Regions from separate parts of the Homo sapiens genome. Here region 1 is linked to region 2. Evidence: fine-mapped expression QTL. Tissue or cell type: cerebellum. Region 2 holds a variant in brackets; the other region holds the start of a gene. All regions are shown on one strand. Distances are between the middles of the regions.

Region 1 (5,106 bases), 980 kb before region 2:
AAGGACACATGGTGAATGTGTGAAGAGGCACACACGGGCATACAAGGAACACATCAGGCCCAGAGGCCTGCCCTCCCTGCCCAGCCAAAGCCAGGAAGCCAGCTGCAGCTCCCGGGTTCTGCAGGGCAACTCAAGACGCCTCCAGGGGTAGCTGCAATGTTCTCATCTGGAGAGTCATGGAATCGAAAGAATAAGTTTGCTCCCTCTACCAGATCCACCCCACCCATGCCCTACTCCGACCTCAGTGTGAGGTCTCCTGTGACGCCCTCACTGCTTCACAGGTACAAAAAGATGGCCACCTCCACCCACCTCTGGGACCCCACACTCCAGGGTATTCAACACACAGGAGTGTGACAAGTGACTTACACCTGGCCTCTGTTCCACATCAGGCACTCCTAAAAGGAGGGGCTTGTTCTTGTCACTTGGATTCCCTAGGGATGGGCAGGGGGCAAGCACCCACAGGCACTTTCTCAGTTGCTGCTGGCCAGTTGGCAGGCTATGTGAAAAGGCTGGCAAGGAAAAAGGAGTCGGGGACGTCAGTCACCTCTATCACCCAGGCAGGAGATGCTGGGCCTGGAACCAGAGGCACCCCAAAGAAGCCAGGCATAATATGGCCTCACCTGAGCCCGGTGACCTCATCTGCAAAACTGGGACTCAAGAATCAGAAAACGGTGACCTTCTACCTCTCTACACGTACATATATGTTTTCTAAAGAAGTTAATCACAAGAATCCACAAACCCATTGGTTCTGACCTCCAAGAGCCTATATGATACCCTCCTCCACAGGTAGCCCTTTTCCTGGCTTCTGTTCTTACCAAGGCCACCCCACAACTAGTCATCCCGCTGCCCAGAGAGCAGCCAAAAGCAGTGAGCAACTAGCTCTACATGGGGAGACCAGAGAAGCATCACTGAATCTGTCCAGGTTGAGCACCGGTCAGGGCCTTGGCCACCAGGCAGGCACTAGGGAGGAGGCAGACATTCCACATAGATGACACAAGCGCAGAGCCAAGAGGTGCGGTGTATCTGGGCTGGGAGCCTGGCTAGGGCACAGGAGAGGGCCACACACCCCGTGCTCCCACACCCAGGTCATCAGAGAAGATGGCCCTGGCACTTCTGCCTTCATGGGACCTTTCCTCCATTAAGAAATATTAAGAGTCATGCTTTTTCACTGTATTAGTATAAAGATGACTGTATTAATATACATACGAAAACATTTTATTTGACCTAAAAGTTCATTTTTTTTCTGCTGACTTTAAAAAAAAATAAAATAACATTCGAAGGCTACTAAAAGTACCGTGGGCAAGTGATACCAGGATTCCTGTGCCTGATGGATACATCGGCCCTGCATTTAGGGAGTTTGATTTTTTGGTGCAGTTCAAGGGGAGGTACACCGAAATAGGTAGAAAAGGGTCTCCTGGTTGCCACGGTTCTGATTCCCCACCACAGACTTAAGAACACACTAGCTCCGAGGGGAGTTCCAAAGCACGGACTCATTCATCACATACACGCAGCACGGCTAAGGGCCCCGCACAGTGGCGAGGTCTCTGCTCCCGGGACGCTCGCGCCGGCCACACAACGCTAGGCTGACTCCTGGTGCCTCCTCTAGGCCCGGTGGGACCTGAGGACTTCCTTAGCGCAACGTCTCACTGAATGACAGCCACAACCACCGCTGTCCAGGCGAGGAGTTTCCAGGACTGAGAGGCTGGCACTAGGCCACTGCTGGGAGGACGTCTGTGAAACCAGGTGCCCCTGAGAGCCACTGTCCCCAGCCCGACTCCGACGCTGGACTGGCGAGAGGGTGCGCCCGTGGCGTAGCTCCTGGCCGCCGCCGCTCCCGGGAAGGGCCCAGAGGCAACATCCTGGACAGCAGAGCTGCACGAAGTCCGAGGCGCCGCGAGCCCAGGTAAGCTCCAGCAGGCGTCCGCAGAGAGTGCCAGGCGGCCCGCGAGCCAGGCCCCGCCCGCCCCTGCCCCAGGCGCGGCCCCTGCAGGAGGGCGCCGCGGGTGAAAGGAGGTCCCGGGGCGACCCCGGCCCCGCTCGCCGCCCAGCCCCCACACCGCCCCCATCGCGCGGCGCACCTGGCCGCAGCGGCTCGGTGACAGTGAGCACGAGCAGGAAGAGCAGCAGGAAGGCGCCGCTGTCTGCCTTGGGCACCATTTATCCTCCGTTCATCGTCCCCGGGGCGGCTGGAAGGCCGGACCAGGCCGGACTGAGGGTCAGGGGACCGTGCCAAGCGGAGGGTCAGGCGGAGCTGAACCTGGGCGAGGCGCGGAGAGGCGGCGGGAAAGAGCTTCGGCTGGGCCGCGGGCTGGCGCACACTCTCGGCTGCAACCTCAGGCACCGACTCCAGCTGCGCGCAAGATGGCGGCCGTCCTGCTCGGCTCCGCGCCGCGCCGCCCCGCCCCGCCTCCCGCCCGCGACGCAGGCGCGGGCCAATGACCGTCAAGATGGGGGGCGGGGCCAGAGCCAAAGCCCTCCGAAGAGGGTGAGGCCTAAGGTCGCGACGGCGGAGGGCGGGGACCTAAGGGCGGGGACTGAGGGGCGGGCTCTAAGGGAAGGGCGGGACCATACGGAGTGAGGCGTGCCATTGGTTAAGCAGAGAGGCAGGGCCGGGGCCGGGGCCTGAGCGGCGGGGCCACCGAAGGGAGTAGGGTCTCTGGACGCCGGTTAGGGACGGCGGGCGCGGGACGGCAAGGATGGACATCGAAAGGCGCGGGGCATGGGGCGGGGCGCCGAGGGGTCGCGCGGGTGGGGAGCGGAGAGAACGAAGTGGGAACCTGGCTGGGACTCCAAGGGTCTTCACACCTGCAAGCTCAGGTCCCGTGAGCAGCCCAAAAGTGCGCCCCAAAGGGGTCTTTTTAAGGCCGAACCGCTGTGGAGGAGGGAGGGCCTGCCGGTTCTGAGGGTGGGGAAAGAGGAACAGGAATGGCCTAAGAGAGTGTCAGGCAAAGAGAGACCGGGAAGGCCAGGTCCTGGAGACTGCAGCGAAGCCGGCTCCCTGGAGGACCTGCCTACACAATGGCTAGGGGAAGGCCACATGTGCAGGAAAGAAAGCTAGGCAGAGAGGAGGCTCAGCGCCCCTGCGAACAGTGCTCCAAGTGCCACTTCTCCCGTCATCACCAACAGGGTGAACCTTGGAGGGCAGTGTCGGCGAAGAGTCCAACTCTGTAAAATATTTGAAGACATTTCTTCTGAGCCAATATGTGACCAATAGCCTGGGACACAGCCCCAGGAGATCCTGACAAGTGCCCAAGGGGGTAGGGCCACAGCTTGGTTTTATACATTTTAGGGAGACAAGACATCAATCAGCACATGTAAGATATACATTGGTTCAGTCGGAAAAGGCGGGACAACTTGAAAGTGGGGGGTGGAGGGGGGCTTCTAGGTCATGCGGATTGGCAGTTGGTTCAAAGAGTTTATCTAAAGACCTGGAATCAATAAAAGGGACTGTCTACATTAAGGGGTTGTGGAGACCAAGTTTCTTAGGCAAATGAAGCCTCCAGGTATCAGGCTTCACAGAGAAAAGACTGTTAATGTTTCTTATTAAAAAGTGCCAGACTCTGCCGGGTGTGGTGGCTCACGCCTGTCATCCCAGCACTTTGGGAGGCCAAGGCGGGCGGATCACCTGAGGTCAGGAGTTCAAGATCAGCCTGGCCAACATGGTGAAACCACATCTCTACTAAAAATACAAAAGTTACCCAGGCGTGGTGGCACACGCCTGTAATCCCAGCTACTCAGGAGGCTGATGGCAGGAGAATCGCTTGAACCGGGGAGGCAGAGGTTGCAGTGAGCCAAGATCATGCCACTGCACTCCAGCCTGGGCAACAGAGTAAGACTCTGTCTCAAAAAAAAAAAAAAAAAAAAGGAAAAAAAAAAGGAAAAATAAATAAAAGGTGCCAGACTCTAGTTAATTCTCTCAGGAGAAAAGACCTTGAAAGGGATAGGGATTCTCTACAGAATGTAGATTTTCCCCACAAAAAACAGCTTTGCAGAGCGACTTCAAAATATGTGAAAGAAACCTGTTTTGCAGTAAAATATGTGTTTCCTTCCGGGCCTGCTGTCATGCTGGTATCTTACTGCCACAGAGTCTGTTGTCAGTCTTCAAGTCTCTGTGTCGATGTTACACTGCTTAGCTGTGCCTGAAACCTGAAGGGAGGAGGGATAATGAGGCCTGACTCCCACTTCCTATCACGGCCTGAAATAGTTTTTCAGGTTAAGTTTGGAATGCCCTTGGTGGAGAGGAGGGGTCCATTCAGATGGCTGGGGGGTTAGAGTTTTATTTTTGGTTTCCAGGAGACAGTAGTTGGGGTGTCCCCAGCGGGAAGGAGAAGGAGGCTGTCTGGAAGGAGGAGAACCAAGAATGCACAAAGGCCTGGCAGTGGGCAGTCAGCGTTAGGGAAGAAGGTGAAGGAGCAGAGAAAAGGGGGAAGGGCCACGGCAGGTGGGGACCCAACCCAACATGAGTGACAACCAGCCCGCCCTACCAAGTCATCCTGAGGGGCCCAGGGTTCCACTTGGCTCCTGTGAGAAAGGGGTGCTCACTCCCTCTAGGTGGATGAGGCCAAAGTCAAATCCAAGGCTAGGATAGTCATGTGACTCCTACTCCCCTAGGGCATAGCCCGGAACAAGTGCTGGACACAGAGCCTGGCACAGCAGAGGGGCTCCACTGCCAGAAAAAACAATGGCCACACTCTCCAGTGCTGCCCCTGCTGCTTGTACTGTCCTCAGAGCAGCCACCAGTGCTCAGGGTGGCATCCAGTCCCCGCCTTTAGCCCCCAGCCCCAGATCTGCCCTGGGAGCCCAGCCAGGGGCAGAAAAAAAACTAGTTCATTGAGTGCCAGGGAGCCCTGCCCAAGGACATGGCGTGCAAGATGTTCCACCAACTCTCCTCAGCCATTAAATACTGCCACGACCTGGACATCATGCACCAGAACCTCAAGTGTTAGAACCTTCTCCTCGACAAGGACTTCAACATCAAGCTGTTCTACTTCAGGTTCTCCAAGCTCTGCCTGCGGGATGACAGTGGCCAACAGAGATTAAGCAAGAACTTCTGCGGGTTGGTGGCATATGCAGCCCCCGAGCTGCTGCAGGGCATCCCCTACCAGC
Region 2 (5,186 bases):
TTAATTTGCTAGTTCCCTGCTGCATCTGTGTTCTTGGTGTTAAGGTCATGGTACGGGTAGTGTCATCAAGCGAAGTGGGAAGTAGCCCTCCTCCTGAGTTTTTCAGAAGGGCAGGACAGATATAGGATTGGTATCATTTCTTCCTTAAAATTTGGGCCTGGAGTTTTCCTAATGGGAAAGTTTTAAACTACTACTGTATGAACTACTAACTATAACTATGACTACTCTGAACTACTGTTGAGTTTCTTGAACAGGTGTAGGGCTGTTGAGGCTACTGAGATAGTTTGTGTCTTGCCAGGCATTGGTCCATCTCATATAGATAGTGGAATGTAGAGGTGTCGGGCGTCTGTGGTGCTCCCACACGGTCCTTTGGCATCTGCCAGGCACTGATTGCTTAGGTTTCTCCTGTGCTGTTTGTCAGAAGCAACAGGGATTTGTCTGCAGGTCACTTCTGCCATCTGTCTGCTCTCATGAGCTGGAGCCTCCACCTGTCCCTGGCGGGTTAACCCTCAGTAGCACATGTGGCCTCAGGCAGCTTGGTGCAGGGCATCCTGGTGTCGGTCTTTTTTTTTTTTTTTTTTGAGACGGAGTCTCGCTCTGTCGCCCAGGCCGGACTGCGGACTGCAGTGGCGCAATCTTGGCTCACTGCAAGCTCTGCTTCCCGGGTTCACGCCATTCTCCTGCCTCAGCCTCCCGAGTAGCTGGGACTACAGGCGCCTGCCACCGCGCCCGGCTAATTTTTTTTTGTATTTTTAGTAGAGACGGGGTTTCACCTTGTTAGCCAGGATGGTCTCGATCTCCTGACCTCGTGATCCACCCGCCTCGGCCTCCCAAAGTGCTGGGATTACAGGCGTGAGCCACCGCGCCCGGCTGGCGTCGGTCTTTTGCCAGAAACTTCTGAGCGTGCTCTCTAGCTGTGTGTGTGTCAGCCACTGCCTCAGCTTCTCCAGGGCCAGTCCCGAAGCCGTGGGGTATGTGGGTTCTTGTGGGCCGACAGCACTGGACGTTGCTAATTGGTTGGCTGGTTGACAAACCCTTGAGGTTCCAGGGCCTGATGTCTTGGTGAGTGACCTTCCCTGGAAAAAGACCCATGTTGATTTGTGCACTTGAGAGGAGCAGTGTCTTCTGGGGACCTATTTGAAGACAGTAGCCAAGCCATACCTCGAGGATTTTTCGCTTGCCAACCTCAGGGCTAGTGCCTTCCTCTTCTATGCAGTTGCAGCGAGTTGGCCTTGCTGCTTGCTGGAGCGGCGAGGGCAGAGGAGCTGCCCACTGCCCTGTCTGTAGGGCCAGTGTCCCTGTGGAGCGGGCTTGGCACACTGTGGAGCCTGCACAGCGAGGCGTGTGAATCATTTGATTCTAGGTTTCCTCGCTGCCCATGGGCCAGGCAGGCTCCAGGTCCCTGCAGACCCCTCCAGAACAGGGCCAGTGGGGGAAGCACTGTGAGGGTGTGGCTGATGGGTAATCTCCAGTGCTTCAAAGTGTGGTCTTTTTTGGAAAGAGGATGATTGCAGATAGAATTAGGTTAACATGAGATCACACTGAAGCAGAGCAGTGGTGTGATCCAGTGTGTCTGGTGTTTCTCTAAGAAGAGGGAGGAGGGGCAGGGCTAGTAGTCCATATGAAAATCGGAGCAATGCTGCCATAGCCAAGGGATGCCGGGGCCACCAGGAGCTGGCAGAGGCTCCCTAGAGGCTTCTGAAAGAGGATGGCCCTGCTGAGGCCTTGATTTCAGACTTCAGAATGGTGAGAGAATAAACCTCTTGTTCTAAGCCACTGACTTTGTGGTATGTTGTCACAGGAGCTCCACCAGGGAGGTTGTCCATGCTCCAGAGTGGGCTGGATAGCATCTTCCTTTCACCCAGGAGGCACTCTCAGCTTCAGCCAAAGTCCTAGTCTGGGAAGGCACAGTGGGCAATGTCTCTGCACCTCAGCCTGCTGCAGCTTCCCTATGCCTCACTGTGTGGAATCTCCCCATCACCTCTTGTTTCCCTGTCTGCCTCTCTTGTCCTTCCTGTGTGTTCTTGGGTTGGCTGCAGAGCCAGGGTGATGACACTGTTGGAAGCCTTGCTGGGCTGGGCCTCTGCTGGCCACCTGGGGCTGGGCTCTGTGTAGCTGTGTGGGGCTTTGGCCTTTGGGGAGCTGGGCCTTTTAAGGCCAGCTTTTGGGTCTGGCTGACTTTCCCTCTCCTGTAGTCTCAGTTGTGGCAATAGTAAAGCCTCTCTGCAAAGGTGCTTTATCTTTATAGAGTTCTGAGAAGGGTGCCTTATGGATCAGAATCAGATCCAAATAAGGTGGGCCTGGCCAGCCAGCCATGTACCTGGGGCCCTCTTAGGATACCAGACTCCATCCCACAGTGCTCAGGGTGGAAGGGTGCTGTGGGCTCTGGAGATGGGCAACTGGACGGTGAGGTACGGAGCATGTCTTGTACCCGGTGGGTTCCTTGCAGAGTTGAGGTATGAAGTGCTAGGCGAGCTCACAAGAACAGACATTAAGCATCTGGGGAAAGCCAACCGCAGGCCCAGCCATGAAGAGGCCGGTGGGCCTGGTGGGGACTCACAAGCCTCTGCTTTGTGTTGTAGTATTTTAACCACATCAGCATCGAGGACTCGCGGGTCTACGAGCTGACCAGCAAGGCTGGGCTGTTGTCTCCATATCAGATCCTCCACGAGTGCCTTAAAAGGTAGGGTAGGGGGGTGCCTCCCCCCATGAGTCAGGTCGGGGGAGCTCCTCTCTGGCGTCTCATATTCTTGTGGCTGTTTGTCCCAAGGCAGAGGCATGGCCAGGTTTCCCTGGGTACACAGCAGCCCCTTGGCCCTGGCCACCAGTCAGTCCCACAGGCCTGAATC[G/A]GGCGTGTGGAGAATTCCCTCCTCTGGCTGAGATGCAGTCTGGGGAGAGGCTTGGTCATTTCCTAAGGGCTTCCCAGAGCAGGCCTCCTCAGAGGCAGCTGGCTGCTCTGCTCAGGGGACGCCATCTGTTGTCTGTTTTCTCTTAAAGAAACCATGGGATGGGTGACACGTCTATCAAGTTTGAAGTGGTTCCTGGGAAAAACCAGAAGAGTGAATACGTCATGGCGTGTGGCAAGCACACAGTGCGCGGGTGGTGTAAGGACTCCTTCTCTGCTGCCTGGTGGCCGCTGGGCGGGCGGCCCCTGGTGTGGCCCTGCGCCTCTGTGGCTTGGTCTCAGCTGTTGCCCTGGCATTGTCCCTGAGCCCAGCTGTGTGTGCTGGCCACCACACGTTCAGCCTAAGGCGGACTGGCAGCCGTCCTGCCTGCACTTTCCCTGTCTTTTCCCTTTCCCCCGCTGTCACCCCTGTCTCCGTCCAGCCCTTGTCCCTGTGGCAGGAGGAAAGGCCCTCCTCCTCGAACAGCCAGCAGAATCCTGCTGCTCCCTGTTTCTGGAGGTGTGCGTCTTGGCGGGAGGGAGGCTCTCGGCTGCGTGGCTTTGAGTGGTAGTGTCCTCAGCTCCTAGACTCTGAGGGCCACTCTCTCAAGGTGGCAGCTGGGTACTGTGAGACTCAGGTGCCCAGAGCAGTGGCAGAGTGCTGCCTATTCCTGTAGAATGTGCCCTGGCTGGCCCTCGGGGTGTGGGTCAGGAGGGCTGGGAGCGGCAGGGGGCCCCATGAGCACTGGGTGTTTGTGACCCCCTCTCCATGCTTGCTCTTTCTCTGTGTAGGTAAGAACAAGAGAGTTGGAAAGCAGTTAGCCTCACAGAAGATCCTTCAGCTGCTGCACCCACATGTCAAGAACTGGGGGTCTTTACTGCGCATGTATGGCCGTGAGAGCAGCAAGATGGTCAAGCAGGTAACTGGCCATCAGCAGGTCCCAGGGCAGCCTGTGCTGCCACCCTGGAGCGTATTCCTGAGGCTCTGTGCTCAGAGGGGGCAGAGCTGGGCAGCTCTGCTGTTGCTCACAGCTGCCTCTCTCCTGGGCCACTTGTGTGGCTTTGTGGGCAGGGGTGGGGTCGTCCCAGCTACATCTCCTATCCCAGCCTGCTGGGCATGGTCAGTGAAGTGTGGGTGATTGGGAACGCAGGCTGGGCCCAGCTATGTGGCTTGTAGGGAGATGGCCAAAGTGCAAGGCAGGGCCAGGCAGGAGATGCTGAAGGTGCGCCCGGCTCGGAGGTGTGCAAAGGCTCAGGAGCCAGGGCCAGCTCTCCCTGCTTGAAGGAGAGCGAGTGTGTCAGGGTAGCTCTCCCTGGTACCAGTGCCGGTCCATCTCTAACAGAAGAGCATATGTGTACCATCTGTCTTGTTTCTGCTGTTGTGGCCAACATCCTGCAGTGTAAGCCAGTGCCCACTCCTGAGGGGTGGAGGGTAACATGGGGAGGTGAGTGTAATCATTTTCCTCAAATGATTACAGAAACTCTCTGGGTTCTTGCCCTCCTGGTCATTGGAAGGGGAAGTAGTTGTGGAGGGGTTAGGCCTGCAGGTGGGGCAGCCCTAGGACTGTGTGGTGGGTGGGCCCTCTGCCCAAGCCAGCTGCCAAGAGCAGGGCCTGCCTTTAGGTCCCTGAGACCGAGGCCTCGGCACTGTCCCCGAAGAGGCCTTTACTCTGGACATGATAAGGGAGGGTGAGGGGGCTCACACGGGCCACCAGGGCATGTTAAGGAACTTGAGAGAGATTTTTGGGAAGCAAGTTGAAATGTAGGTAGCACTTGCTTCTGCCCTTGCTGTGCATGGTCCTTGGCTGTGACGGAGGGAGAGAAGGCAAGCCCCACTCTGGCCCGGGGGTGGGAAACTTCCCTGAGCAGGAGGGGGAAAGGTCCCAGCCAGGCACAGCCACAGCTTGGGGGAGCTCTGGCATCCCGAGGAACCACAGCACCCTTGGGGCTGGCCTAAGACGGGAAGGGGCTGAGGCCAGCCTGATGCTGCTCTGCATTCATGGAGTGTGCAGAGAGCTCAGTGCCTGAGGCTGATGGGCTGGGCTGCAGCGTGCTGTTCTTACTGGCTATGGCCACACTCTGGTTTCACTCCTTGATGAGGACTCTGGGCACCACGAGCACCTCACCTCCCTACTCTGCCCATGGCAGGAGGCCATATAAGTGGCGTGGTGTGGGCAGAAAGGCCTGGCAGCTATGGACTGCCCCTCGCTCTCTGCTGCTGTCAGTGGGCCTGGCATCACTGAGGCGGGCCAGTCAGCATGCAGTTATGTTGCCACAGCTCCTGGCTGTTTCGTGTCTGCCA

Which allele goes with the higher level. Alleles are on the strand shown, and positions count from the first base shown. SD is a standard deviation of normalised expression in the study named.
For the expression in cerebellum of the gene that starts at base 2,363 in region 1, G is the low allele of the variant in region 2 and A is the other (large effect, 1.2 SD a copy in GTEx).

Evidence for each region. PIP is the estimated chance that this variant, and not a neighbour inherited with it, causes the effect.
Region 1: it holds the start of DGCR2, and the variant in region 2 is fine-mapped to the expression of DGCR2 in cerebellum (GTEx, PIP above 0.99).

What each region holds. Positions count from the first base shown.
Region 1 is chr22:19,120,050-19,125,155 of GRCh38, forward strand. It overlaps DGCR2 (DiGeorge syndrome critical region gene 2), which reads right to left and starts at 2,363. Exons shown (of 10, transcript NM_005137.3): 1 at 2,079-2,363. The coding sequence starts at 2,157. It also overlaps the pseudogene TSSK1A. RefSeq lists an enhancer at 1,722-2,223 and silencers at 2,008-2,127, 2,248-2,687.
Region 2 is chr22:20,103,595-20,108,780 of GRCh38, forward strand. DGCR8 (DGCR8 microprocessor complex subunit) reads left to right here. Exons shown (of 14, transcript NM_022720.7): 10 at 2,583-2,683; 11 at 2,998-3,104; 12 at 3,677-3,804. Among named protein-coding and RNA genes, the nearest start is that of MIR6816, 8.6 kb to the right of the region's middle. The variant G/A (reference allele first, on the strand shown) is at 2,850.